4 linked regions of the Homo sapiens genome follow. The protein of the gene in region 4 interacts with the protein of the main gene of each other region in a pairwise test. Each region holds a gene or a part of one and is shown on either strand. Other genes may lie near its edges.

Region 1 (7,028 bases), on a different chromosome or scaffold from region 4:
TGAAAAGCGAACAAATACAGATTTCCCCAGTCCTGTTTTGGCAGAGACCTGCCTTTTAACCCACTTTAATAGAGATAACTTTGTGTCAAAGTTAAACTACAGTTAATAATTCATAATGAAAACTTAAAATGTTTCTTTACAGTAGTTGTGTAAAGATACTGCTGTTACCTTAGGTTAAGAATTAAGCAAAAGATAATCTTCTAACATAGAATTGTTTTCCAAAGTGCCCCCGTCTGCCCTATTTCCAAATAACAAATTTAGCAAATATGAATGAAACCTTAATTTTTGTGAATAGTATGAAATCACAGCATAAGTGTTCACGTTTTTCTTTCTTGTGTCTAAAGGATCTCTCTTACAATGGAAGTTGACAGGAATATTATAAATATTATAAATGTCTTTGTTGCATAACTTTCAAATTTCTGGTCGTGAATAGTTTTCAGCTTTTAGGTCTGTTATTTGAGTTTTGTAGGTGTACTTTGAGCTTGATCAGGTACAGTGGAAATGTTACATGTTATGTTTTAGTTATGACTACCTGGAAGATGGGGAAAGATACACCTCTTAAAATTGATTTAGGAAAGAAACGCCAATTTAGTATCTGGGAAAGGACACAACACATTTTTAAAAATGTGTAGTGCTTCCCATTAAGCTTAACGTAAAACTTTTAAGCATTGAGAATTGTTACCATAAATATAGTTTCTTGAGAATAAGTTGCTCTCTTTTAGGTTTCAGCCAGAAAGTCCATGTATATACAGATTACAGCAGGTCCTTGAATAATGTTGTTTCAAGATAATGTTGAGAAAAAAAACTGTCTGTGGAGTTTACACGTTCTCCCTATCCCTGCATGGGTTTTCTCTGGGTACTCTTGATTTCCTCCCACATCCCAAAGCTGTGCACGTGAGGTTCACTGGTGTGTGGAGCTGTGTGTGTAAGTGTGAGTGCTTTCTGCAGTGGATGTCCTGTCCAGGACTGGTTCCGGCCTTGCACCCTAAGCTGCTGAGATAGGCTCCAGCCACCCCAACCCTGAACTGGAATAAGTGGTAAAAAAAAAAATTTTTTTTTTTGAGATGGAGTTTAGCTCTTGTCACCCAGGCTGCAGTGCAATGGTGCAGTCTCGGCTTACTGCAACCCCATGCCTGTAATCCCAGCACTTTTGGAGGCTGAGGTGGGCAGATCACCTGAGGTCAGGAGTTGGAGACCAGCCTGGCCAGCATGGCGAAACCCTGTCTCTACTAAAAATAAAAAAAATTAGCCGGGCTGGGTGGCGGGCACCTGTAATCCCAGCTACTCAGGAGGCTGAGGCAGGAGAGTTGCTTGAACCTGGGAAGCAGAGGTTGCAGTGAGCGGTTATCGTGCCATTGCACTCCAGCCGGGGCAACAAGAGCAAAAGTACTTCTCAAAAAAAAAAAAAAGGCATGTATACTTCACATTTATTTCAGTGTTTAATATTCGAAGTGTTTGGTCTTTATTTAAAAGTTTGGTGATATTTTTCTGATGAGAAATATGCCCTAGAACCTAACTCTTGTTTGTATCAATAAGCGTGTGTTAGTCGGAAGTCTCAGTTTCCAAGAACCTACCCCTTATGTTAAGAGAGGATTTACTGTATTTTAAGTTTAGAAATGGCCATGACTCATGGAACTCTCCTCCATCCCCATTCTAAAGTCCAGATCATTGATATCATTCTGGGTGTTATCAAAATGGATACTGCTTCATCCAGTCTCTCTCCCCAATACCACAAGGTAGTCTCAGTTTGTGGGGCAACTTTCTTTGAGCCTTTTTACTGGATTGAGTAAGAGTGTAATTCAGTATAAAGATGAAACTTTCATGAAAAGGGTATCTTTTTGTGGGATTCCACAAGTCAATCCCAGAGTTTGTCGCCCAGGCTGGTCTTGAACTCCTGAGCTCAAGTCATCTTCCCACCTCAGCCTCCTTAGTAGCTGGGATTATAGGCAGAGGCCTTGTTTTCATGAGCCTCTAAATTGGATCTTCTTATTTGATGTGATACCCAGTGACACAGAATTGTTCAATTTGAGGAAATATAAATTCCTCCCCTCTCAAATAAGAGCTTTGGAGTTGCTTTTCTCTCAGAATGGGATTTTAGAGCTTTCAAAAATGTTTAGAGAATTTTATGACAGATTTGTTTCACACTAGACCTATAACAGGTTATTTTACATTGACTTCTGGTGATGGAGACATTTGTGGTTGAAATGCTTCTCGTGTAATTTTCTACATGAGCTTTTCTTTAAATAAAACTTCACCAGAGTCAAGGCTGTATACCATTTGTGCTGTTCCAAAAAATATAAATTGCCAGTTATCAGTTGAACTATGAGAGGACATGTTAGTTGCTATGGTTATTTACCCCCACCATTTTATTATGAAAAATTTCAAACATATAACAAAGTTTATGAAGTTTTATTGTACATCTCTTTAGATACCATCTACTTTCTATTTTTGCCTCCCTGTTTCATGGTGCTGAACACCGTCTACTATTTTTTTTTTTTTTTTTGAGACGGAGTCTGGCTCTGTTACCCAGGCTGGAGTGCAGTGGTGTGATCTCGGCTCACTGCAAGCTCCACCTCCTGGGTTCATGCCATTCTCCTGCCTCAGCCTCTCGAGTAGCTGGGACTACAGGTGCCCGCCACCATGCCTGGCTAATTTTTTTGTGTTTTTAGTAGAGATGGGGTTTCACCGTGTTAGCTAGAATGGTCTCGATCTCCTGACCTTGTGATCCGCCCACCTCGGCCTCCCGAAGTGCTGGGATTACAGGCGTGAGCCACTGTGCCCGGCATACCTTCTGCTCTTTGTCATGAACATTTTACCATACAGTATTATGAAGCTTGAATAATGTTGGCCAAATCCATTGTTCTCACCTGCTAAGGAGATAATAGGATTATAAATATATAGCTGTGTTGATCTTATCAAATGCCACGGGATGGATGGGCTTGGATATCTGTCTTGTTGACAGCTTAATGCTCTGAACTAGAAAACCTTACTGCAGAGAAAAGTAATATTTTTAAAGTGGTAAAATGGGAATTACTGCAAATAGCTTAATTTGTTTTTTAAGTGTTTACATTCCCATACTGGTGAATAAGGTTGATGTAACAGTGATTTATGTCACCAGATAAATGGAAGTAGAGAAAAATTTCTGCAGGCTGTTAATTGCTGTATATTTTCTGGGATTACATATGTTTATTTGTTAAAGAAGTAGACTCAGGGAACTCCCTCAAAGTATATTTACTGGAAGCAAAAGTGGAAAAATCTATTTGAGAAAGTGTTTGCTTTCGATTAAAAATTAGTCTTCTGAATATCAAATCTGTAACCCATCTGGCATCTGTTTAATCTGGAATCTAATTTGGGAAAGAAGTGTGATGACTATGTGGGTTTATAACAGTAATGGAAGCAAAACTGGCCATTTTATTATGATAGAAATTTTGTGTCATGTCTCCCAGACAATAAAGGCTAAGAAAATCTATTTAAATACATTGGGGTCTTTTCCCCTGAATGAACATGATTGCTGAGGGTTAAACCTTCATTAGATTGCCTCTGCTTTTTTTTTTTTTTTTTTTTTTTTTTTTTTTGTTGAGATAGTCTTGCTCTGTTGCCCAGGCTGGAATGCAGAGGTATCATCTCGGCTCACTGCAACCTCCACCTCCTGGGTTCAAGCAATTCTCCTGCCTTAGCCTCCCGAGTAGCTGAGACTACAATTGAGCACCACCACGCCCGGCTAATTTTTTGTATTTTTAGCAGAGATGGGGTTTTGCCATGTTGCCTAGGCTGGTCTCGAACTCCTGAGCTCAGGCAATCCGCCTGCCTTAGCCTCGCAAAGTGATAGGATTACAGGCTTGAGCCACTGTTCCCGGCCTTGCCCCTATACTTGATGTAGCTACAGAACTGGTTGCTCAGTGAGTGGGTTGGTTTTAGTCAGCATATTCTCTGATCCTATTTAAAATTTTTTACAAGTGGAGTGTTGCTGTAAGTTTTATAGATGTTTATGTGTAAGGACAGGTTTAGTGAATTTGCTGGATAATAATATTTACTGCTATTGAGCTCTTACCATGTGCCAGGTTAGAATTACAGGGTGAAAGTTATTTTATGCAGAAAAGGAATTAAAAGGTCAGGTTGAATTTACCTAATAATATAAAAGTTGCAGTTCATTTAGCTCTTTCCTTGAACCAAAGAAAAGGGTTTCTTAGACCCTTTATGTTGTATTTCTAATACTCATAAACATCTTTGCAGCGTAAAGCTCATAATAATTGCTGAGGATGCTGATGCGCTTCCGAGGGGCCAGATAACTGGCTCAGAGTCCTGAGGCACCAAGTATTAGTTCTAGAGCACAGGCTGGTCTGGCTCCAAAGTCAGTGTTCTTTCCACTGAACCATGCTTTGTCTCTAAATTATGCTTAGGTGCTTTTTGTTTAGGATAATTGATTCTGCTTGTCACTGGTGGCCCTCCCCTGACTCTCCCCACCGCAGCAGCTAGGATGAATTTTGCTCATTAGAACCCTAGATCAATTTGAAAGAAAGTCTGGTTAAGTAATAGTCTTTTAGATGGACCCTTGAAATAGCTTTCCAGTTTACTTTTATTTGTTATGTCAAATTAAGCTAAAACTTAAAGCTGATCCACAGGTTTGTGTGTGGGGAGGGGCTGTCTTATTAACCTTTGTGTTAAAGGAGGCCAGCTCCTAAATTACTGCTATCGTGTGTCATCAGGTTTGTTAAAAATTGCTGGCATGGTGGCCCACGCCTGTAATTCCGTCACTTTGGGAGGCCAAGGCAGGCGCATCACCTGAGGTCAGGAGTTCGAGACCAGCCTGGCCAACATGGTGAAACCCCATCTCTACTAAAAATACAAAAATTAGCTGGGTGTGGTGGTACGTGCCTGTAATCCCAGCTACCCCGGGGGCTGAGGCAGGAGAATGGCTTGAACCCGGGAGGTGGAGTTTGCAGTGACCTGACATCGTGCCGCTGCACTTCAGCCTGGGCAACAGAGCAAGACTCTGTATCCAGGGGGGGAAAAAAAAAAAAAGAACTGTAGTCCAGGTTGTTGCTAAAAAAAAAAATTCATTTCTTCTGAATTCTAACATTCTGCTTTAGTGGAAATGAGTTAACTAAGCTTCCAATTAACTTTATAGGATAGGTGCTGGTTGTCCTCTTTGCTTCCTAGCCCTTTCTAACATCCCTCTTGTGGCTAATACTGTTGGGAGTATTTAGTACAGCTTCCTGTTTGGAATTGAACTGCTTCCTGAACAATTTTGTTTTACTTTTGTTTGAAACGGTGATCTGAATCAGAAGCTTCTTTGGTATTCCACCTGGGCAGTCTTCTCTTATGGTTAGTCTTGAAAGGCTGGATCAGTGAAATTAAATCTGCCTTTGGATGTGAGCTTTTAGTGAAATGGTGTCTGAAGTTCCATTTTGTGTTTAACCTCAACTGAGGCTACCCTGTAGTCTGTAATGACATAGCATGTCTCATTAATCACTAATAGGTGTTGGAAATACCCCTTGGCATGAAGTGAGCAGATAATGCTGCTTACATTGTCACTATATTAGCTCCCTTCAGAGATGAGCTTTAGGATCTAACTAGATCTTGTCTGATTCTCTCCTATCTTTGCTGTTTTGAAATCCATGCCTTCTATAGATTACAATTAACTGAGGCATGAATTTTCTACCCTTGCAGATTCCACCCTGATTCAAATAGGGCCATTGTCTGCTGAAGCCATTGTGATTTTATGCAGAATGCTAGGCAGTCCTTTCCTCTGTCAGAAAGAACAATTTATATGTAATAATAAGTCTCATTATGCTTGGAAGCTTATTTTCCTTGTTGCACAATTGAACCAACCTGCTCATGAAAGCTCCATGACCCTTTACCTAGATGACAGTCAAATATAGTTAGGCAAATAAGTTTCCTTTTGGTTTGTCATTGAGTAAACCTTTGCAACCTGTAATGTTTAGCAAGTGACTACTTCTGTATAGTAATTTTCCTTTTAGTTGAGAATTTATTCAAGCACCAAACATAAAAAAGAATAAAAGTGAAATAAGCTTTCTTTTGCATAAGGGACTTTCTATAATTTGCTACTTTTTATCTTCTTTTTTTTTTTTTTGAGGTGGAGTTTTGCTCTTGTCGCCCAGGCTGGAGTGCAGTGGCGTGATCTCGGCTCACTGCAACCTCCACCTCCCAGGTTCAAGCGATTTTCCCACTTCAGCCTCCCGATAAGCTGAGATTACAGGTGCGTACCACCATGCCTGGCTAATTTTTTTTTTTTTTTTTTAGATGGAGTCTTGCTCTATCGCCCAGGCTGGAGTGCAGTGGCGCGATCTTGACTCACTGCAAGCTCTGCCTCCCGGGTTCACGCCATTGTCCTGCCTCAGCCTCTGGAGTAGCTGGGACTACAGGTGCCCGCCACCATGCCCAGCTAGTTGTTTTTTTTTTTTTTTTTTTAGTGGAGACGGTGTTTCACCGTGTTAGCCAGGATGATTTTGATCTCCTGACCTTGTGATCCACTCGCCTTGGCCTCCCAAAGTGCTGGGATTACAGGCGTGAGCCACCGCGCCCGGCCATGCCTGGCTAATTTTTATATTTTTATTTTATTTTATTTTTGAAGCAGAGTCTCGCTCTGTTACTCAGGCTGGAGTGCAGTGACCCAATCTCAGTTCACTGCAACCTCTGCCTCCCGGGTTCAAGTGATTGTTCAGCCTCAGCCTCCCAAGTAGCTGGGATTACAGGCATGTGCCACCATGCCAGACTAATTTTTTTTTATTTTTAGTAGAGACAGTGTTTCACCATGTTAGCCAGGCTGATCTTGAACTCCTGATCTCAGGTGATCCACCTGCCTTGGCCTCCCAAAGTGTTGGGATTACAGGTGTGAGTCACTGCGCCGGCCTAATTTTTGTATTTTTAGTAGAGATGGGATTTCACCATGTTGGCCAGCCTAGCCTCAAACTCCTGACTTCAGGTGATTGGCCCACCTTGGCCTCCCAAAGTGCTGGGATTACAGGCCTGAGCCACGGTGCCTGGTTTAGTATGCATTCTTGACT
Region 2 (7,028 bases), on a different chromosome or scaffold from region 4:
TCTACTTCAGTAGTCTCAACAAGTTGGCATGATGTATTGTATAGAATAAATACACAATCAATTTTTACTGAATTACTGTGTTTTCCTTTGATTTTCACACTGGTTCCTTCCAGTCACATCACTTCATTTTTTCACTTTTCTTTTTTCTTTTTGAAATGGAGTCTCACTCTGTCGCCCAGGCTGGAGTGCAGTGGCACAATCTGGGCTCACTGCAACCTCCACCTCCTGGGTTCAGGCATGAGCCACCACAACTGGCCTCACTTCCCTTTTCTGACCAGGACCCCTAGCCTCCATCTGTACATTCATTGCATTTCCATTAGGGCTCAAGAGAGTGAAAACAATTTTAAATGTGCCAACTTTCTAAGAAGGGGTTAGGGAAACACTACACTCAGGAGATGTTGGGCCAGCTGTGGTGGTTCCCGCCTATAAACCCAGCACTTTGGGAGGCCAAGCTAAGAGGGTTGCTTGAGGCCAAGAGTTCAAGACCAGCCAGGGCAACACAGTGATGCTCTGTCTCTACAAAAAAAAATGTAAAAATGAGCCAGGCGTGGAGGCATACAACTGTAGTCCCAGCTATTTAGGAGGCTGAGGCAGAAGAATCACTTAAGCCCAGGAGGTTGAGGCCACAGTGAGCTATGATTGTGCCAATGAACTCCAGCCTGGGCAACAATGTGAGACCCTGTCTCAAAAAACAAAATTAAAGAAAGAAAATTTTAAATTAACTATGTGGTTCATACTATATTCCCATTGGATTATGCCAGGGTGGTAACGATAAAAAAGCAAGATTCATTTAACTCAGAAAGAAAATTAGGCTAAGATAATAAATCCAGCAGCCAACAAGTCTTAATAATAGGCACTTATCTGGTAAGATCACATGAGACAATATTTCTTGAATTTTTTTAATGTAAATCCCTCCAACAACAAAGAACGATCCCATCTCTGAACAAAAATTTGCAAGCTGAGGTTTTTCTTTTTTTCTCCTGTAGACAATACTGAAAAACAGTAAAAGCAAACACCAGAAAGAAGTCTACAGAACACATAAAACAATGTGGATGGTTTTGCCTTAATTACCTAACACTCTAAAAATAAAAAGGCTCGGTACAGACAGTGGTGAACAGAGCTGTTTTAAAGTATTTTACATCAACACTTGCTAAAATGTAAAAAGAAGTAATTTCAAAATATTGCTTTAAATCAGAGCACTGCCTACTTATGACAAATGTCATTCTGCTACTACTGAGACAGAACACAGAGAAATGCCATGGTCCAAGCTCACAGGTCCAGTTTCTGGAGAGTCTCAGTCTACTTTAATACAAAATCACAAGGAAAGCACTAGCAGTCACTACTAGAATAAACTTTGAAATGACCTCGATTCCAAGCCTCACTCCTCTCATGGATATGACTGACCTAAGTTATTTAGCTTTACTGAGCCTTTATTTTCTCATCTGTAAAATGGGTCAACAGTACCTAACCTCAAGAGAATGTTGTGAAGACTAAATAACTGATAAGGGGTGGTAAATGCTCAATAAATTTATTACAGCAAGCACTTCAAAGCCCCAAAATAATTTCAAAAACCTTTAAGAATGAAACATTAGGCAAATGCCAGGGCCACTCTCAGAAAACTACACGCTAGTTGTAGTAATTAGCTCCAGGCATGCCCTTCCCGCCCCCTGTTATTAAACAGCATGATGTGGCAGATCAAGCACTAAACTAGCAGGTAGCAAATCTGCATTCTAGACTCAATGGTGTCATTAACTCTGTGAGTGACCTTAGGCATTTACTTAGCATTTCTAAGGCTCCAGTTCCTTTATCTGAAAATGAAGAGGCTGTACAACTGCTAGGGTCGTATCCAGCGCTAACATTCTAAGAACCTCTTTATTCGGACACAAAAGCAATGCCACATTATCAACCTGATCAGACTTTGCATAGAGTAACTAAAATTCCATTATGTTTTTCAAACAACCCTGAAAGACAGTCTTATGAGCTACAACCTAACTACTTCAAAAACAATTTGAGGCCAGGCGCGGTGGCTCACACATGTAATCCCAGCACTTTGGGAGGCTGAAGTGGGCAGATCACTTGAGGTCAGGAGTGCGAGACCAGCCTGGCCAGCATGGCAAAGCCCCGTCTCTACTAAAAATACAAAAATTAGCTGGGGATGGTGGTGCACACGTGTAATCCCAGCTACCTGGGAGGCTGAGGCAGGAGAATCGCTTGAACCAGGAAGGCAGAGGTTGCAGTGAGCCAAGATCGTGCCAGTGCACTCCAGCCTGGGCGACATAGAGAGATTCATCTCAAAAACAAAAAAGAAACAAAAAACCATTTAAATAACATTTAAAATACACAAACCAAAACCATTTCAGATACCCTCAAAAAAGTACAAAAATAACAGAAACAGCCGGGTGCGGTGGCTCACACCTGTAATCCCAGCACTTTGGGAGGCCGAGGTGGGTGGCTCACTTGAGGTCAGTAGCCACCAAGACCATCCTGGCCAACATGGTGAAACCCTGTCTCTACTAAAAATACAAAAATTAGGCCGGGCGCGGTGGCTCACGCCTGTAATCCCAGCACTTTGGGAGGCCGAGGCGGGCGGATCACGAGGTCAGGAGATCGAGACCATCCCGGCTAAAACGGTGAAACCCCGTCTCTACTAAAAATACAAAAAATTAGCCGGGCGTAGTGGCGGGCGCCTGTAGTCCCAGCTACTTGGGAGACTGAGGCGGGAGAATGGCGTGAACCCGGGAGGCGGAGCTTGCAGTGAGCCGAGATCCCGCCACTGCACTCCAGCCTGGGCGACAGAGCGAGACTCCGTCTCAAAAAAAAAAAAAAAAAAAAAAAAAAAAAAAAATACAAAAATTAGCCAGGCATGGCGGTGCGCACCTGTCATCCCAGCTACTCAGGAGACTGAGGCAGGAGAATCGCTTGAACCCGGGAGGTGGAGGTTGCAGTGAGCCGAGATCACGCCATTGCACTGCAGCCGGGGCAACAAAGGGAGACTCCATGTCAAAAATAAAAAAATAACCGAAACATTTTTCTGCTACCAAAATTAACCACCTAAAGGCAATGGACAAGTAGTATGGTAACATACTGGAGTTCTACAGAAATATTCAACCAGGAAATTACCCAGTGACATTCTGCAGAATGCGCTTTTTTTTTTTCAAGTGAAGCGACATACAATTACCTAGTGGGAATGTGGTTTGGAAGTGAGTGTCACCACTGTTAGGTCAGGTGCTCGGGAAAGCCTTATTAAGTGTTCTTCTCTCTTTGAAAGTAGAATTATGATGGGAAACTGGTTCAACTTAGAGTACTGTAACAACTAGGTTTCCTTAGAACAAAGCCATTTACGAAGGAGCCATATAAATCTACAGTCTCGGCTCACTTTGTTAAACTCTACTGAAAACAAGGCAGAAACTTCTAAGCCTTGAAATGAATCAACAATCAACAGCTAAAAACTGTCAGTTTTCTTGATTGTTCTGAGGACCTCAGATCCTTCAACTAGTAGCCAAATTCTTGTCTCCCGAAGATATTTTAAAACCAAGGGTAGAATGATGAAATTCTAAACATGCCCCAATAGACACACTAGCCAGACTCATAGTAACTGAACTCACTGCTGTTTAATACGAAATAGACAAGTACTGTAAAAAGATAACCAGTGCTCTACCTTCAGCACTCTCGACAAACTTAAAAATACAAAACTTGGCCAGGCACAGTGGCTCTCGCCTGTAATCCCAGCATTTTGGGAGGCCGAGACGGGTGGATCACTTGAGGTCAAGAGTTCGAGACCAGCCTGGGCAACATGGTGAAACCTCATCTCTACTAAAAATACAAAAATTAGCTGGGCGTGGTGGCGGGCACCTGTAATCTCAGCTACTTGGGAAGCTGAGGCAGAACAATCGCTTGAACCTGGGGAGGCAGAGGTTACGGTGAGCCGAGTTAGGGCCACTGCACTCCAGCCTGTGACAGAGCGAAACTCCATCTCAAAAAACAAAAACAAACAAAAAAACTTAGCCAGGCGTCATGGTGGGTGCCTATAGTCCTAGCTACTCAGGAAGCTGAGGTGAAAGATCACTTGAGCCCAGGGATTTGAAGTTACGATGAGCTATAATCACACAATTATACTCCAGCTTGGGTGACAAAGTAAGATCCCGTCTCTAAAAAATAATAAGTAAAAAGTTTTTTAAAATACACACAACCTTGGTGATCAGGCTTTGGCTGCAACTCTGGCCCAGGAGGCCAGAAAAAAAAATACACACAAGGCATTCGCAAAGAACAGTGAGCAGATAATAGATAAATCTTTAGTTTTATGAGAGTGACAAGACTGAGAGGTTTTACGTAAGGGATTGCTGTTCTCGGCTTTGAAAGCCTTCTCTACACTCTCTGCAGGGCTCACTTACCACACTGTGACTTCCACTAGAGTACACTGGGCATCTGATCCCTTTCTAGATTCCTTCAGGACCACAATTTATTCATCTTGGTGTTATTTCAAGTGCCTAGCATAGCATCTTTCATTCAGTGGACTGGTAAATGTTTGTTAATGAGTCGCTAGTACATATATCTGAGCAAAACCAGAAATTCGCATTTCTGGAAAAAAATTCCATTCCAATACTGCTAACTCAACCCAGAAGGTTATCAAATCTCTTTTTCATTCCTTTCTCTTCAACCAGAAAGAAAATACTATCTGAACACTTTCAGACATTTCTTCCCCAGCAAACCAAAGCAAGCAAATCAAGGCTTAAACTTTGTCGTCTACATTACTTCCTTAACTTGTTCAAACTGAAATTGCTGTCTTTTCACGCTGTGCAACTTCAGAAAAGGTAAAAAATAAAGAACAGAAGAATGCAATAAGATATGTACTGACAGCACTACGTAATACCTGCTCCAAAGAGGGTTTTTACACCAGTCAAAAATTCTAACAGTTTAAACAACTGCTCAACTTGGCACAGCACAGCCCTAGATGATGCCTTCGCTTCTTCCCTAAATCCTCAGTCTCAAGCCATTCATACGTGTAAAACCATGAAACAAGAGACAAAAAGGTCAGCCATGGCAGGAGAAGTAACGAAAGGCAGTGTTTACTACTGTGATACTCCAGGGATACTGTGGGGCCTCTCCTCTACCCCATCTGCTGTCCCACTGAAGCCTAAAAACACCTTTATATGAGCACTGTTCTTGCAGGCACTTCAGTCTCAAAAACACATTCTCAAATACAGAATCTTACCTATTATCTACCTCAACAGATAGAATTTAACATATTAATAAAGTGTAAGGGCCTTTCTGGATTAAACAACCATTACTTTGATTTGGAATCCTCTCTACTCTGGTGGCCCTGAAGAGGTCACTTCTGAGATGTTCCAGCTTAAAACTGAGAATATTCTAAAAAGCATCTGCCAAGTGGTGATGGTTGCATAACCTTACAAATATATTAAAAGCCACTGAACTGTATGTACACTTTACTTTTCTTTTTGGACAGTGTCTCATTTGGTCACCCAGGCTGAGTGCAATGGTGCCATCATAGCTCACTGCAGCCTCCAGCTCCTGGGCTCAAGAGATCCTCCCACCTCAACCTCCCAAGTAGCTGGGACTACAGGTTTGTGCCACCACACCCAGCTATTTTTTTTTTTTTTTTTTTTTGAGACAGAGTGTCAATGTCGCCCAGGCTAGAGTGCAGTGGTGTGATCTCGGCTCACTGCAACCTCCGCCTCCCAGATTCAAGTGATTCTCCTGCCTCAGCCTCCCCAGTAGCTGGGACTACGGGCGCGCACCACCATGCCTGGCTAATTTTTATATTTTTAATAGAGACAGGTTTCGCCACGTTGGCCAGGCTGGTCTCGAACTCCTGACCTCAGGTGATCCGTCCACCTCGGCCTCCCAAAGTGCTGGGATTACAGGCATGAGCCACTGCACCCAGCTGTATTTTTTTTTTTTTTTTTTTTTTTTTTTTTGTGGAGACAGGGTCTCAGTCTCACTATGTTTTATGGAGGCCTCAGGCAATCCTCTCACCTCAGCCTCCCAGAGTGTTGGGTTTATAAGTGTGAGCCAATGCGCCCAGCTTGTACAGTTGAAAAGGGTGAATTTTACAGTGTGTAAGTTAAATGTCAATCATTTAAAAAAAAAAAAAAAAAAGGCCAGGCGCGGTCACACCTGTAATCCCGGCACTTTGGGAGGCCAAGGCGGGCAGATCACCTGAGGTCAAGAGTTCAAGACCAGCCTAGCCAACATGGTGAAACCCCATCCCTGCAAAAACACACACACACAAAATAGCTGGGCATGATGGCAGGTGCCTGTAATCCCAGCTACTCGGGAGGCTGAGGCAGGAGAATTGCTTGAACCTGGGAGGAGGAGGTTGTAGTCAGCCGAGATCGTGCCATTGCACTCCAGCCTGGGCAACAGAGCAAGACTCCGTCTCAAAAAAAAAAAAAAACAAAAAAAAAACCTCCTCTTCCAATAAATAAGGCATTCAGCAAATACGGAACACTACAAAACAGAATGTTTCTCTTTAAAATTCAAGTTCCACAATACAATCTGCTAAGTTTTGGAGACAGTGCCTCCTCCAAGTAAGTACTGAGGGCTGCTGGTTTTATTCCATGCTTGTTTCTTAATGGCAGTGAGTTCTGAGAAGCATTAAAGGTGGGATGATGCAAAGAACACCACATCATTACTTTAGAAGCTCTGGCTGTTCTAAAAAGTTCAAGTAACCCTAAAATTACTAAACCAGTTTCTTATCTAACAATAAAAAAAACTAGGTGCAAATTGCAACTTAAATACATCCTATCAGATAAAATGCTTGTTCTAATATACATTAAGCCTTGTCTTCTATATTTTTATTCACTTGGGGACCTCACTTTTTAAGGAGAATCTCTTGGCCAATTTACTTGGCTCTAGAGAACTGTGCTTAAATGAATTACACTTAATTACACTTAAATGGGTTCCACTTAATTATTTCTTAAGGAACCTATATTCTTTAGTTTTCAAAGAGATCCAAGGTCAATACTGAATCCCAAGGTCTGACTCTCCAGGCTCCTTCAACAGCTTTC
Region 3 (7,028 bases), on a different chromosome or scaffold from region 4:
CCAGGCAGTTTATACACACGCTCTTCCATGTCTTTAGAGAATTCGAGAAGAGAAGCGAGAAGAACGGAGGAGGAGAGAGTTAGAAAAGAAACGTTTGCGGGAAGAGGAAAAAAGAAGAAGAAGAGAAGAAGAAAGATGCAAAAAAAAAGAGACAGATAAACAGAAGAAAATTGCAGAGAAAGAAGTAAGGATTAAGGTAATTCTGAGGAAACATTTCCTTTTTCCAAAAATAGCTCTGCTATAGTAATTACACTTTTTACATATCTTAGTTCTTTAGAATTTTGAAAACATTCTGAATTAATCTAATATTGTGTTGTTATTTTTTTCCATCTTTTCCATCTTTCTTTCCATCCTACAGCAGTGGTTATCACAGTGCGTCCTGAGCCCTGGGAGTCCTCAGGCTGCTGTTGGGTGCCTGTCCTCCTGGGTGTGCAGTGGGGAGCACACCCCACAGGAGCCCCACGCTGGCACACGTTGGGCTGCTGCTGACGCTCTTTTTTTTTTTTTTTTTTTTAAACTTTCCAACTTTCATTTTCGGCTCAAGGCGTACATGTGCAGGTGTGTTACATGTTCATTGTCAGCTCAACGCGTACACGTGCAGGTGTGTTACGTGTTCATTTTCGACTCAAGGCGTACACGTGCAGATGTGTCACATGTTCATTTTCAGCTCAAGGCGTACACGTGCAGGTGTGTTACGTGTTCATTTTCGACTCAAGGCGTACACGTGCAGATGTGTCACATGTTCATTTTCGGCTCAAGGCGTACACGTGCAGGTGTGTTACGTGTTCATTTTCGGCTCAAGGCTTACACGTGCAGGTGTGCCACATGTTCATTTTCGGTTCAAGGCGTACACGTGCAGGTGTGTTACGTGTTCATTTTCGGCTCAAGGCGTACACGTGCAGGTGTGCCACATGTTTATTTTCGGTTCAAGGCGTACACGTGCAGGTGTGTTACGTGTTCATTTTCGGCTCAAGGCGTACACGTGCAGGTGTGTTACGTGTTCATTTTCGGTTCAAGGCGTACACGTGCAGGTGTGTTACGTGTTCATTTTCGGCTCAAGGCGTACACGTGCAGGTGTGTCACATGGGTAAATCAAGTGTCACTGGGGTTTGGTGTGCAGATAATTTTGTTGCCCAGGTAATCAGCACAGTACCTGATGTTTTTCAGTCTTCACCCTCCTCCCATTCTCCACCCTCTACATTTTCCTTTAAAAAAAAGTTTTCCTCCCAGCACTTTGGGAGGCTGAGGCGGGCAGATCACGAGGTCAGGAGTTCGAGATCACCCTGACTAACATGGTGAAACCCTGTCTCTACTAAAAATACAAAAATTAGCCAGGTGTGGTGGCGGACGCCTTAATCCCAGCTACTCAGGAGGCTGAGGCAGGAGAATCGCTTGAACCCAGGGAGCAGAGGTTGCAGTGAGCCGAGATCGCGCCATTGCACTCCAGCCTGGGCGACAGAGCAAGACTCCCTCTCAAAAAAAAAAAAAAAAAAAAAAAATTTCCTGGCCGGGTGGGGTGGCTGACACCTATAATCTCAGCACTTTGGGAGACCGAGGCAGGCGGATTACTTGAGTTCAGGAGTTTGAGACCAGCTTGGCCAATATGGGGAAACCCCATCTCTACTAAAAACACAAAAATGAGCCGGACGTGGTGGCGTGTGCCTGGAATCCCAGCTACTCAGGAGGCTGAGGCAGGAGAATCACTTGAACCCAGGAGGCGGAGGTTGCAGCGAGCCGGGATCGCGCCACTGCACTCCAGCCTGGGCAACAGAGCAAGACTCTGTCTTAAAAAAAAAAAAGTTTCCCTGATTAAAAAATACACATTTGAAAACCACTGGTTTTGCCTTTCTGTGTGAAGGCTGACTCAGAACCGGGTTTTATCATTTCTTTGGCAGTAGCACTAATGAGTTTCTGTATTTCTTGCTGAGTTTTTTCTGTGACTGATACATTCATTTATGAGGGTGGTTTAATACATAGAGGGAATTTTTCTCTGTGTGAAATGTGTTGGCCAGAATTGGGACCAGCCATTATCTCCTCAGTACTAAACCTAGATTTGAACCTAAGGTATCACTCATTACTTATTATTTATTGAATACCTTATATTCAATAATATTGTACAATATGAGGAAAAAAATGAAATGTCAGGACTTGGGGAAAGAAGATAGCTTAGGAAAGGGTGGGGAAGAGATCATTGAACCATAGATTTGTTTCTGATATGGTCAGCAGTCAAAAACAGAAAAGTTGGCTGGGTATGATGGCTCATTCCTATAATCTCAGGACTTTGGGAGACCAGGGCAGGTGGATTGCTCTAGCCCAGGAGGTCAAGACCAGCCTGGGCAACAGAGAGAGACCCTGTTTCTGTTTTTTGTAGAGATGGGGTTCCCACTATATTGCCCAGGCTGGTCTCGTACTCTTGGACTCAAGTGATCTTCCTGCCTCACCCTCCCAAAGTTTGGGGATTACAGGCGTGAGCCACCATGCCTGGCCTGGTTTAGCTTTTAATAAGTATCTGTGCTCAGTATGGGGGTCTTTCACTTCTAAATCATGTGGAAAATTGAAATTCTTTTAATGCCTGAAAAATGGAATCTGTGGAGAAATGCAAAAGAAGGTGTATCAACAGCTTAAAGAAAGACAGATGGCTCATGGCTATTTTGCTATTTTTTTGTTTGGTTTTGGTGGGGGGGGGGTTTGAGACAGGGTCTCAATGTGTCACCCAGGCTGGAGTGTAGTGGCACAGTCACAGCTCACTGCAGCCTCTACCTCCCAGGCTCAAGTGATCCTCCCGCCTCAGCCTCCCATTACAGGGGTGCAACATCATACCTGAATAGCTAATTTAAAAAAAAATTTGTAGAAGTGGGGGTCTCACTATGTTGTCCAGGCTGGTCTTGAACTCCTGGGCTGAAGTGATCCTCCCACTGCTGGGGTTAGAGGCATGAGCCACCGTGCGTAGCACTCATGGCTATTCTTAATAAAGAGAAATATGGTTTGGGAGGCCGAGGCGGGCGTATCACGAGGTCAGGAGATCGAGACCATCCTGGCTAACACAGTGAAACCCCATGTCTACTAAAAATACAAAAAAATAGCTGGGCGTGGTGGCACACGCCTGTAGTCCCAGCTACTCAGGAGGCTGAGGCAGGAGAATCGCTTGAACCTGGGAGGCAGAGGTTGCAGTGAGCTGAGATCACGCCACTGCACTCCAGCCTGGGCGACAGAGCGAGACTCCGTCTCAAAAAGGCTGGACCGCGGTGGCTCACACCTGTAATCCTGGCACTTTGGGAGGCCGAGGTGGGCGGATCATTAGGTCAGGAGATCGAGACCATCCTGGCTAACACGGTGAAACCCTATCTCTACTAAAAATACAAAAAATTAGCTGGGCGTGGTGGCGGGAGCCTGTAGTCCCAGCTACTTGGAAGGCTGAGGCAGGAGAATGGCATGAACCCGGGAGGCGGAGCTTGCAGTGAGCCAAGATTGCGCCACTGCACTCCAGCCTGGGCGACAGAGCAAGACTCCGTCTCAAAAAAAAAAAAAAAAAGAAAAGAAATACGGCACACAGAACAGCTCAGCTGTTTAATGTTCCTCTGAGGATGCTAAGCAGTGAGCTTATGTGTGGCCACATGGGTGAACACACACAGGCGAGGGCTGGGAGGGAGCACAGCTGCCCATGCGCTCCGCTTGGCCTCCGGAAGCCTTGCAGGGCGTGGCAGAGCTGGCCTGCTCCCCAGCTCGTCTCCAGCAGCTCTGGCCTGCTCCCCAGCTCGTCTCCAGCGGCTCTGGCGTGCTCCCCAGCTCGTCTCCAGCGGCTCTGGCGTGCTCCCCAGCTCGTCTCCAGCGGCTCTGGCCTGCTGGTTTCTCATGAATGCACCAGCGGATTCCACCTCAGGACTCCGCACGTTTCCCTCCACAGGGACTTCCCCAGATGTGCCCGTGGCTCCTTCTTGGCATCTGGTCTTAGTTCCCGTCTTGGCTCTGCAGAGAGCCCTCCTGGGCCCTCCTCTTCCTGCGTCTCTGATGCTTTACTCTCCCTTCATGTCTGTTCGTAGCTTTTGATGCTACCTGAGGTTATCTTATTCCTTTGTTTCCTTTTTCATATTTTTGCCACTGTTCACAGCATTCCCCCTTGACCACCGTTGCCTCAGGTGGTGCATCAGGCGCAAGTTCCTTCGAGGCAGGGGCACCTCTTGTCTCATTCACAGCCATTCCCTAGTGCCTAGCACAGGGTCTTAGGCCCTGGTTCCTGCACACAGCTCCTCAGACCTCGGGAATCTGCAGTAATATGAGTGTCTTATATGCCAATGAGAGGACTAGGGGCTGGGGGCCCCAGGCAGCTTCAGGATGGGGACTAGTTGGCCAGAAAGCCAAGGCAGGACTAGAGGGTTGGGACTTTCAGTCCCACCCTAGCCTCCGAGAGGGCAGAGGGCCTAGAGAGAGGTCACCGGTGGCCAGTGACTTAATCAGTCACACCTACATAATGAAACCTTAATAATGCCTAAAGACAGGGCTTCCAGGGGCCAGGCACAGTGGCTCACGCCTGTAATCCCAGCTCTTTGGGGGGCCAAGGCAGGTGGATCCCGAGGTCAGGAGTTTGAGACCAGCCTGGCTAATATGGTGAAACCCCGTCTCTACTAAAAATACAAAAATTAGCCAGGCATGGTGGCGCATGCCTGTAGTCCCAGTTACTCAGGAGGCTGAGGCAGAAGAATCGCTTGAACCCAGGAGGCGAAGGTACAGTGAGCCGAGATCGCGTCACTGCAGTCTAGCTTGGGTGACAGAGCAAGACTCCATCTCAAAAAAAATAAAAAAAATAGACGGGCCTTCCGGGTTGGTGAGCACATCAAGGTGCTGGGAGGGTTACTGCATGGAAGCTCCAAGTACCACTACACCATACCCCATACCCACCTTGTGCATTTTTTCCGTTTGGCTGTTCTGGGTTGTATCCTTTATGATTAGCCAATAATCGAGAAAACAGTGCCTTTCTGAGTTCTGTGAGCCATTTCAGCAACTTACCAAATCTGAGGAGAGGCCATCGGGAACCCCTGAATTTATTGCTGACTGGTCAGAAGTACCGGTGACACACTGGGACTTGGAACTGTCGTCTGAAAGGGGGGCAGTCTTGTGGGACTGAGCCCTTGACCCGTGGGTTCTGGTGCTAACTCCAGGTCGATGATCTCAGAGTTGAGTTGAATGTGGAGCACGCAGCTGGTGTCGGAGGGGTGGTATTGAAAAAGACGTGCAGTGTCAGAAATGTAAGAACAGTTCCTAGGCACACAGAATATTTGTTGAATGGGTGGATGGAGATTTGCACTTCCTATGGTTCACATTTATTACAGACATGTTACTGTTGCAATTTTTATAAAAGATGGGCAGTTACCAGAAAGGAAATGTTTAAGTTCCCAGATTCCACATAGGCAGAATAAGAGGATGTTCACAGCTGACATGGGGCCCACGCTTGATGAGAAGCGGCTTCCAATGCTCCACCTTGCATGATGCGTTGTGTTCCCAAGTGAACACGTGTGATTGAATGCATCTGTGTATGGTCTTGCTATGCTGCAATTATGAGTGAGAACAGAATTCTCAGATGTACACCTTCCATTTCTGTTCTACAAATGATCTGTCTGTGGTGCTTCCGTTTTTTTTTTTTTTCTCCCTTTTCTCAAGTTAGCTGAGGTGCTTTAGTTTCAAAAACTATACAGAGAGCAGGGAGAAAGGCCAGGGGCATACAGGGCAGATGAAATATGTCGTGGCGACTTGTTCATTAATTCTGTTTCAGGAAAGAGAATAATCAGTGTTTTGAAAACTATAAACTATTCTAAAAATCATCAGTAGGAAGCAGCCTTTTAAAAATTTTTTTTTCCTTATTACAAAACTAATACTTGTCTATGTCAGGAAAACTAGACCCTATAGATGAAAGGAAATAAAGTCATTTCAGTTCTGCCATCTAGAAATAATCACTATTGGCCGGGCATGGTGGCTCATGCCTGTAATCCCAGCACTTTGGGAGGCCAACGCTGGGGGATCACAGGTCAGGAGTTCAAGACCAGCCTGGCCAACATGATGAAATCCCATCTCTACTAAAAATACAAAAATTAGCCAGGCACGGTGGCAGGAGCCTGTAATCCCAGCTACTTGAGAGGCTGAGGCAGGAGAATTGCTTGAACCAGGGTGGCAGAGGTTGCAGTTAGCTGAGATCAAGCCACTGCACCCCAGCCTGGGTGACAGAGTGAGACGTCGTCTCAAAAAAAACAACAAACAAAAACTACAAAAGTTAGCCAGGTGTGGTGGCACGCCCCTGTAGTCCTGGCTATTCAGGAGGCTGAGGCAGTAGAGTCGCTTGAACCCAGGAGACGGAGGTTGCAGTGAGCCGAGACTGCACCACTGCACTCCAACCTGGACGACAGAGCGAGACTCCATCTCAAAAAAGGAAATAATCACTATTAATACAGTGCTGCAGAGCCCTTTAGGTGGTGGTGTGTGTGTGAACATAAATAGAAGTGGGGGCTGGGCACGGTGGCTCACGCCCATAATCCCAGCACTTTGGGAGGCCAGGGTGGGTGGATTGCCTGAGGTCAGGGGTTTGAGATCAGCCTGGCCGACATACTGAAACCCCGTCTCTACTAAAAATACAAAAAATTAGCTGAGCGTGGTGGTGGGCGCCTGTAATCCCAGCTACTTGGGAGGCTGAGACAGGAGAATCACTTGAACCCGGGAGGAGGAGGTTGCAGTGAGCCAAGATCGTGCCATTGCACTCCAGCCTGGGCAACAAGAGTGAAACTCCATCTCAAAAAAAAAAAAAAAAATTAGACGGGTATGGTGGCGCATGCCTGTCGTCCCAGCTACTCAGGAGGTGGAGGCAGGAGAATCACTTGAACCTTGGAGGCGGAGGCTGCAGTGAGCCGGGAGTGCGCCACGGCACTTCAGCCTGGGCGACAGAGCGAGACTCTGTCTCAAAAGAGAAAAGTGTAAGTGAGATTGTGGTGCATGTTCTGTTTTTTAGCCCTTTATTCATTACGTGAACATCTTTGCATCACATT
Region 4 (5,800 bases):
CCTGGTGCTCCTTCCGGCTCATATGCGCGGTGGTTCTCCTCTAGGTCACCATGGCTTTGTCATTGGTTACTCCCTCTTTCTAAGGCGCCCTCTTGTTTGGTGGGCAGTATTGGGTGGGTCCCCCCACAGCTTCGTGAGGTGGGCTAGAGGAGCTGGGCATCGGGTCAGTGCCCCGGCCTGCTGGGGGCCCTGTGGGGCCGCGTGTGCCCCGGTGCCTGGAAGGCCGACTCTCTTGACAGCAGGTCTTCTCTCCAAACGTATCCACCCAGCCAGGTGTCTGCCATGGGGCTGCTTAGAGTCGGCCACAAAATCAACCCGTGTGCAGGGTCAGTGGCTTGGCATTGGGCTTTGGGGCCTGTCCCTGTGGCTGGCAGCCTGCCTGCTGCCCGGTCCACGCCTCTGTTGCCTTGGATTTGGGTTCTGAGTGAATGCAGCCTTGCCTCTTGGACCGTCCTGTGAGACGGGCAGCTCTCCACCTGCGTCCTCAGCACTGCGCCCTTGTTGCAGGTATGGCGTCATCATTGTGGGCAACCCGAAGGCACTATCAAAGCAGCCGCTCTGGAACCACCTGCTGAACTACTATAAGGAGCAGAAGGTGCTGGTGGAGGGGCCGCTCAACAACCTGCGTGAGAGCCTCATGCAGTTCAGCAAGCCACGGAAGCTGGTCAACACTATCAACCCGGTGAGCGCCTGCACAGGACAGCAGGGCAGCACGGAGAAACCCGGGCCCAAAACACTGCTGGGAACGTGCCAGCTTGGCCCGTGTGCCCGTGAGCTGAGGGAGGGCTCTCCTAGGGGAGGGTGGGCTCTCCTAGGGGAGGGTGGGCCAGCCCACTTCTTGTCTCCCGAGCCGTGTGTGGCATTTTTGGCTTGGGGCCGCTAAGTCCTGGGTGGCCTCTGGGAATTGGGCTCAGGGCTGCTGTGCTGCATGCAGCAGCCTGGGACCTTGGACACGGGCAGTTGGAAGCTTTGCAAGCCCGGGGTGATCTGGTAGTGAGGGGGTGTGAAGCTTCCTGAGCTGAGGCCCAAGGGTCAGCATCAGAGCCCAGGTCTGCCGAGGAGGGCAGGCGAGACCCAGAGGCCATGAGACAGCAGCTCCCTCCTGTCTCCAGGGAGAGCCCCTGGCACAGTGTCAACACCTCACAGCTGCATACCTGCCACCTCCCAGGCCACCGGGCCCGTGGGAAGTTGTTCCTTCTGTTGAGATGACAAATTCCTCACCTATCTAAACCTTCGCAGGGAGCCCGCTTCATGACCACAGCCATGTATGATGCCCGGGAGGCCATCATCCCAGGCTCCGTCTATGATCGGAGCAGCCAGGGTGAGTCGCTCAGCAGGGGACCTGGCCGACCCCTTGTCCTCACACCGGGATGCTGGCCGTTCCCATGGCTGCAGCTTTAGGTGCCCCCATCTTTCCTTCCCCTCAAGGGCGGTGCCTGGCTCCCTTGGCCTCCCCGCCCCTAGGGCATCTCTAGCCCCGGAACACTCCTGGGGTGTTTGTCTTTAACCAGAGTTTATTCATTTGTGTTTCCTGGTGATCAAGCTAGTTAGCTTTTTCTTGCCTTTTGGTAGGGCAGGGACTGCATGTAGTACAAATAGAACATTTTCATAAAAAGGATTTTTTTTTTCCTTTGGTAAATGCAGGGTGATTTTCATTTATTTTCTTTTTTTTGTTTAGAGACAGGGTCTCCCTATGTTGTCCAGGCTGGTCTCAAACTCCTGCCTCAAGCAGTCCTTCTGCTCAGCCTCCCAAAGTGCTGGGATTACAGGCGTGAGTCACTGCACCTGGCCAATTTGCAGGTGTTTTTTTTTTTTTTTTTTTTTTTGGAGACCGAGTCTCGCTCTGTTGCCCAAGCTGGAGTACAGTGGTGTGATCTTGGCTCACTGCAACCTCCCCCTCTGGGTTCAAGCGATTCTCCTGCCTTGGCCTCCCGAGTAGCTGGGATTACAAGCACCCACCACCATGCCCGGCTAGTTTTTGTGTTTTTAGTAGAAACGAGGTTTCGCCATGTTGGCCTGGCTGGTCTCAAACTCCTGATCTCAGGTGGTCCACCTCGGCTTCCCAGAGTGCTGGGATTATAGGCTTGAGCCAACACGCCCGGCCCCAATTTTCAGTTTTTAAGATCTGTGTAGGCCAATGATTCCCAGCAGACTCTCCTCGGGGAAGGTGCCTGCCCAAGCACCCAGCCCCAGGCAGGCTGCTGTAGTTAACATGGAGTCCTGCGAATCCGCATCTTCAGCCTGGGCAGAGCCAGGACAGATGTGCAGCTCCGGCTGACTGGCTGGTGGGGTGGGTGGGGTATCGCTGGGGTTTGACCGAGGCAGGTGACACCTGCCGTGTTCCACTGTGATTTGCAGGCCGGCCTTCCAGCATGTACTTCCAGACCCATGACCAGATTGGCATGATCAGTGCCGGCCCTAGCCACGTGGCTGCCATGAACATTCCCATCCCCTTCAACCTGGTCATGCCACCCATGCCACCGCCTGGCTATTTTGGACAAGCCAACGGGCCTGCTGCAGGTGAGCATCTGTGGCTGCGGCTGGGTGTGGCCCTCCTGAGAGCTCTTGAGGGTGTGCTTGTCTGCGAGGCCCTGGCCTCCTTCGGATCACCCTGGACTGCTGTCTTTCAGGGCGAGGCACCCCGAAAGGCAAGACTGGTCGTGGGGGACGCCAGAAGAACCGCTTTGGGCTTCCTGGACCCAGCCAGACTAACCTCCCCAACAGCCAAGCCAGCCAGGATGTGGCGTCACAGCCCTTCTCTCAGGGCGCCCTGACGCAGGGCTACATCTCCATGAGCCAGCCTTCCCAGATGAGCCAGCCCGGCCTCTCCCAGCCGGAGCTGTCCCAGGTGAGCCCGCCCCTGGGACGGGACTTACCTGAGTGAGGGTGGGGCTATGCACCTGAAACATTCCCTCTGAAGAGCCCCAGAGAGCTGGCCTGGCCCATGTCCACTGTCTGAATTACCTGTCCCTGGGCTGGGGTCATCAGAGTGGGTCTCCTGGGTCTTAGTTTGGGGACGGGTTTTCCATTCTTTTCTCTGGGGCTGCTGAGGGCTGGGTGGATGTGAGCACCCTTGGCCTGTGGCTTGCTTACCTCCTGACCTTGTCTTTCAGGACAGTTACCTTGGTGACGAGTTTAAATCACAAATCGACGTGGCGCTCTCACAGGACTCCACGTACCAGGGAGAGCGGGCTTACCAGCATGGCGGGGTGACGGGGCTGTCCCAGTATTAAAAGGCAAGCCCCCCTGGAGCAGGCCTGGCCCCACCCCAGCCTCAAGGAGAAGGATGGGAGGGGGCTCTCCCCAGGGAGCTGCACTGGAGGGGTGGTATCTGGAAATGTGTGCTGTGCCTGGTGGGGGTCATAGGCCCTCAGGGCCAGCTTGGCCTGTGCCCTTCACTGCTAGTCAGGGTGGCTCCTCACCCCACCCTACCCCATCCTGTCTGCTCCGGGGACCACCGCGGGACCTCAGTTTCCTCATCAGAGTCGGGGAGGGCAGCTCGGGCTCTCCCTCACTGTCCTGTGTGCTGGGTACCTGTGGGGCTCAGGTCGCAGCCTCTCACCGCCTCCTGCCCTTCTCCCTCCTGACAGGTGGCGGCGGAAGAGCTAAGCAACGTGGCTTAGTCCATCAGCATCTTATTCTGGGTAATAAAAAATAAAAATAAACGGATACCTGTTTTCCACTGCTAAAACTGAAGCACCACTGTGTGAGCAACAGGAAGGGAGAGCGCACGAGGGAGAGGAGCCGAGGCCGAGCGCCCCCTGCTGGCCCGCGGCGGCGAGGAGCAGAGGGAGCGGAGGAGGGGCCGGCCCGCGGGAGCCGCGGCCACCAGGAGGCCCCGCTCCGTCCCATCGGGGCTGCGGCCAGGGCGGAGGGAGGAAGACCCTCATCTCAGAGTAGCCCTTTCCTCTGTTCTTTTATTTCTTTTTCTCTTTGATTGAAAGGGGACTACGTCTTAGCAGGAAAAAAAACTTCGCATTTCTGTGCCCGAGCAGGCTCCTTGCAAAGACAGCAGCGTGCGGGGCAGAGCCCCGGGAGGGCGCGTCTGTCCACGCCTACCGGACGCGCCGAGGTCGCGCTGCCTGTGTTCTCCGAGGGCCTTCATTTAAAGAAAATAAGGGTGTTTTGGGTTTTTCTCTTTGTTTTTTTCAAGATTCTTTTAAAGGAGTACTGAAGAATACTTTCCTAAGTTTGTCTGTAAAATCTTAGCGGTGGACCTGGGAGATTTGAGAAGCTTCCAGAAACAGTTTAAACAAGCCAGCGCTACTGGAGAAGAGGAGCAACACCTGTGCCGCGGCCGGAGGAGTTTTGTTGTTGGTTTTAGCTTCCAGTGGCTTCTTTCTGCGGGGCATCAGGCTGCTGGGGTAGCCGCCCGCCGAGCCTGGAAGCTGCTCGTTCTCCGCTGGACTCAGAAGCCAAGCTGCTTCCCGCCTAGACTCGGCGCAGGGCCCCGCACCGGTGAGGAAGGTGCTTTTGGCCCCATTGCGAGGGGCCTTGGCCAGGACTGGCCCTGTGGCCAGGAGGCGAGAAGGTGGCTGTTCCCGGATTGACGGCTTTTTCCCGGGGGCCTTTGGAAGATTTGGTGGAAGGACAAGAGGGCCTGTCCCTGTCCCCGTCCCCAGGAGGTACCGACAGTCCCTGTGCTGGTTAGACACGGAGCGCTGCACACCGAAAGCCCAAATTGGGAGCTCTGCCTGCCGGCAACTTTGCTGATGGGGTGATTGCTGCTTCTGGGGGGTAAGGAAACAAGTTACAGAAATTACCGCGTTCTGTGTGAAGGGACTGAGGGTGTGGTGTCATTGGCAGAGGGTCATTTTAGGAGAGCTGCCCCAGCCCCTCGAACGCCTGGCTTGGGGTGTCATTCTGCCTGGCGGCCAGGCCTCCAGCTTCCCCTGCCCCGGGCCTGGGGCTGTCACTGGCCCTGATCCGAACACCTCCAGATTCCGGCTTCTACATGGGACAGACGGGGACGCACAGGCCACCTTCCTTCTGGCAGGGACTCTTATTTATTCCCATTGCTCTAGGGCTTTCGGTTTCCCCTTCTTCCGGTAGGCCGCGTAGAGGCATGCACCGGGTAGGTTTCCGCGGTGACCCCGCGGCGGCCTGAGGGACGCTCCCTGCCCCATCCCGGCTGTTGGGCTGGGCCGCTTTGCCTCTGCTTCGCCCTGTGCTGTGTTCTCCAGCTTTGTAGCAGCAGCCTTGACAAACCCAGGCGCACTGTACCAAGGCAATGTAACTTTTGATTTTCGGTCAATTTAAGTTCTTTTGTCACCAAATATTAATAAACAGTTTTGACTTCACACCAAGGTTGGATAAACTGCAGGGGGTGGAGGGTGCTGGGGTTTTGCCTTGGCTGAGTGACGGGTTGGGGTGTGAAGGAGGCCAGAGGGAGACAGGCAAAGCCCAGAAGGGACAGGTCTGCCTTGCAGGACTGAAGGGCGACCCCTGCCCCTGGGCCCTTCCCGTAGGCAGCACCTGGGCCTGTCCGGGCGGCTCCCCGGAGTGGCGCGTTAGGCCTCTGGCAGGTGGCCTGGAGGTGGAAAGGCCTATCCGATCACCAAGACTGAGGGGCGCCCTCCCCACCACCCAGGCAAGGAGTCCAAGGAGACCAGCGGAGCAGACCACGCGGCATTTATTGTTGGGCCCGCGTCCCTGCCCGCCCCGGGTTAGCGGCAGCCGCACTCGTCCACCACCATGTCCTCATACTGCCGCAGCACCACGTTGTCGCTGTTGTCAAAGAAGAGCACGGAGATGGGCGACAGGCGCGCGGGCACGCAGCAGGGCAGGTCGGCGGCTCCCG

What was found.
Region 1: the proteins of UPF1 (region 4) and STAU1 interact in binary tests that used the Homo sapiens proteins (3 or more experiments, as listed by UniProt).
Region 2: the proteins of UPF1 (region 4) and GSPT1 interact in binary tests that used the Homo sapiens proteins (3 or more experiments, as listed by UniProt).
Region 3: the proteins of UPF1 (region 4) and UPF3A interact in binary tests that used the Homo sapiens proteins (3 or more experiments, as listed by UniProt).

Annotation. Positions count from the first base shown.
Region 1 is NC_000020.11:49,178,314-49,185,341, reverse strand, and holds part of STAU1 (double-stranded RNA-binding protein Staufen homolog 1), read left to right. Parts: intron 1-6,097; exon of another isoform or gene 6,098-7,028. UniProt on the Homo sapiens protein: Binds double-stranded RNA (regardless of the sequence) and tubulin.
Region 2 is NC_000016.10:11,905,948-11,912,975, forward strand, and holds part of GSPT1 (eukaryotic peptide chain release factor GTP-binding subunit ERF3A), read right to left. Parts: intron 1-7,028. UniProt on the Homo sapiens protein: GTPase component of the eRF1-eRF3-GTP ternary complex, a ternary complex that mediates translation termination in response to the termination codons UAA, UAG and UGA.
Region 3 is NC_000013.11:114,291,597-114,298,624, forward strand, and holds part of UPF3A (regulator of nonsense transcripts 3A), read left to right. Parts: intron 1-4; coding exon of another isoform or gene 5-37; coding exon 38-196; intron 197-202; exon of another isoform or gene 203-988; intron 989-1,074; exon of another isoform or gene 1,075-2,125; intron 2,126-3,754; coding exon of another isoform or gene 3,755-3,856; exon of another isoform or gene 3,857-4,512; intron 4,513-7,028. UniProt on the Homo sapiens protein: Involved in nonsense-mediated decay (NMD) of mRNAs containing premature stop codons by associating with the nuclear exon junction complex (EJC) and serving as link between the EJC core and NMD machinery.
Region 4 is NC_000019.10:18,862,931-18,868,730, forward strand, and holds the end of UPF1 (regulator of nonsense transcripts 1), read left to right. Parts: intron 1-507; coding exon 508-682; intron 683-1,239; coding exon 1,240-1,321; intron 1,322-2,358; coding exon 2,359-2,520; intron 2,521-2,630; coding exon 2,631-2,848; intron 2,849-3,113; coding exon 3,114-3,233; 3' UTR 3,234-3,236; intron 3,237-3,590; 3' UTR 3,591-5,300; downstream 5,301-5,800. Other genes in the region: GDF1 (embryonic growth/differentiation factor 1 precursor), read right to left, coding at 5,667-5,800. UniProt on the Homo sapiens protein: RNA-dependent helicase required for nonsense-mediated decay (NMD) of aberrant mRNAs containing premature stop codons and modulates the expression level of normal mRNAs.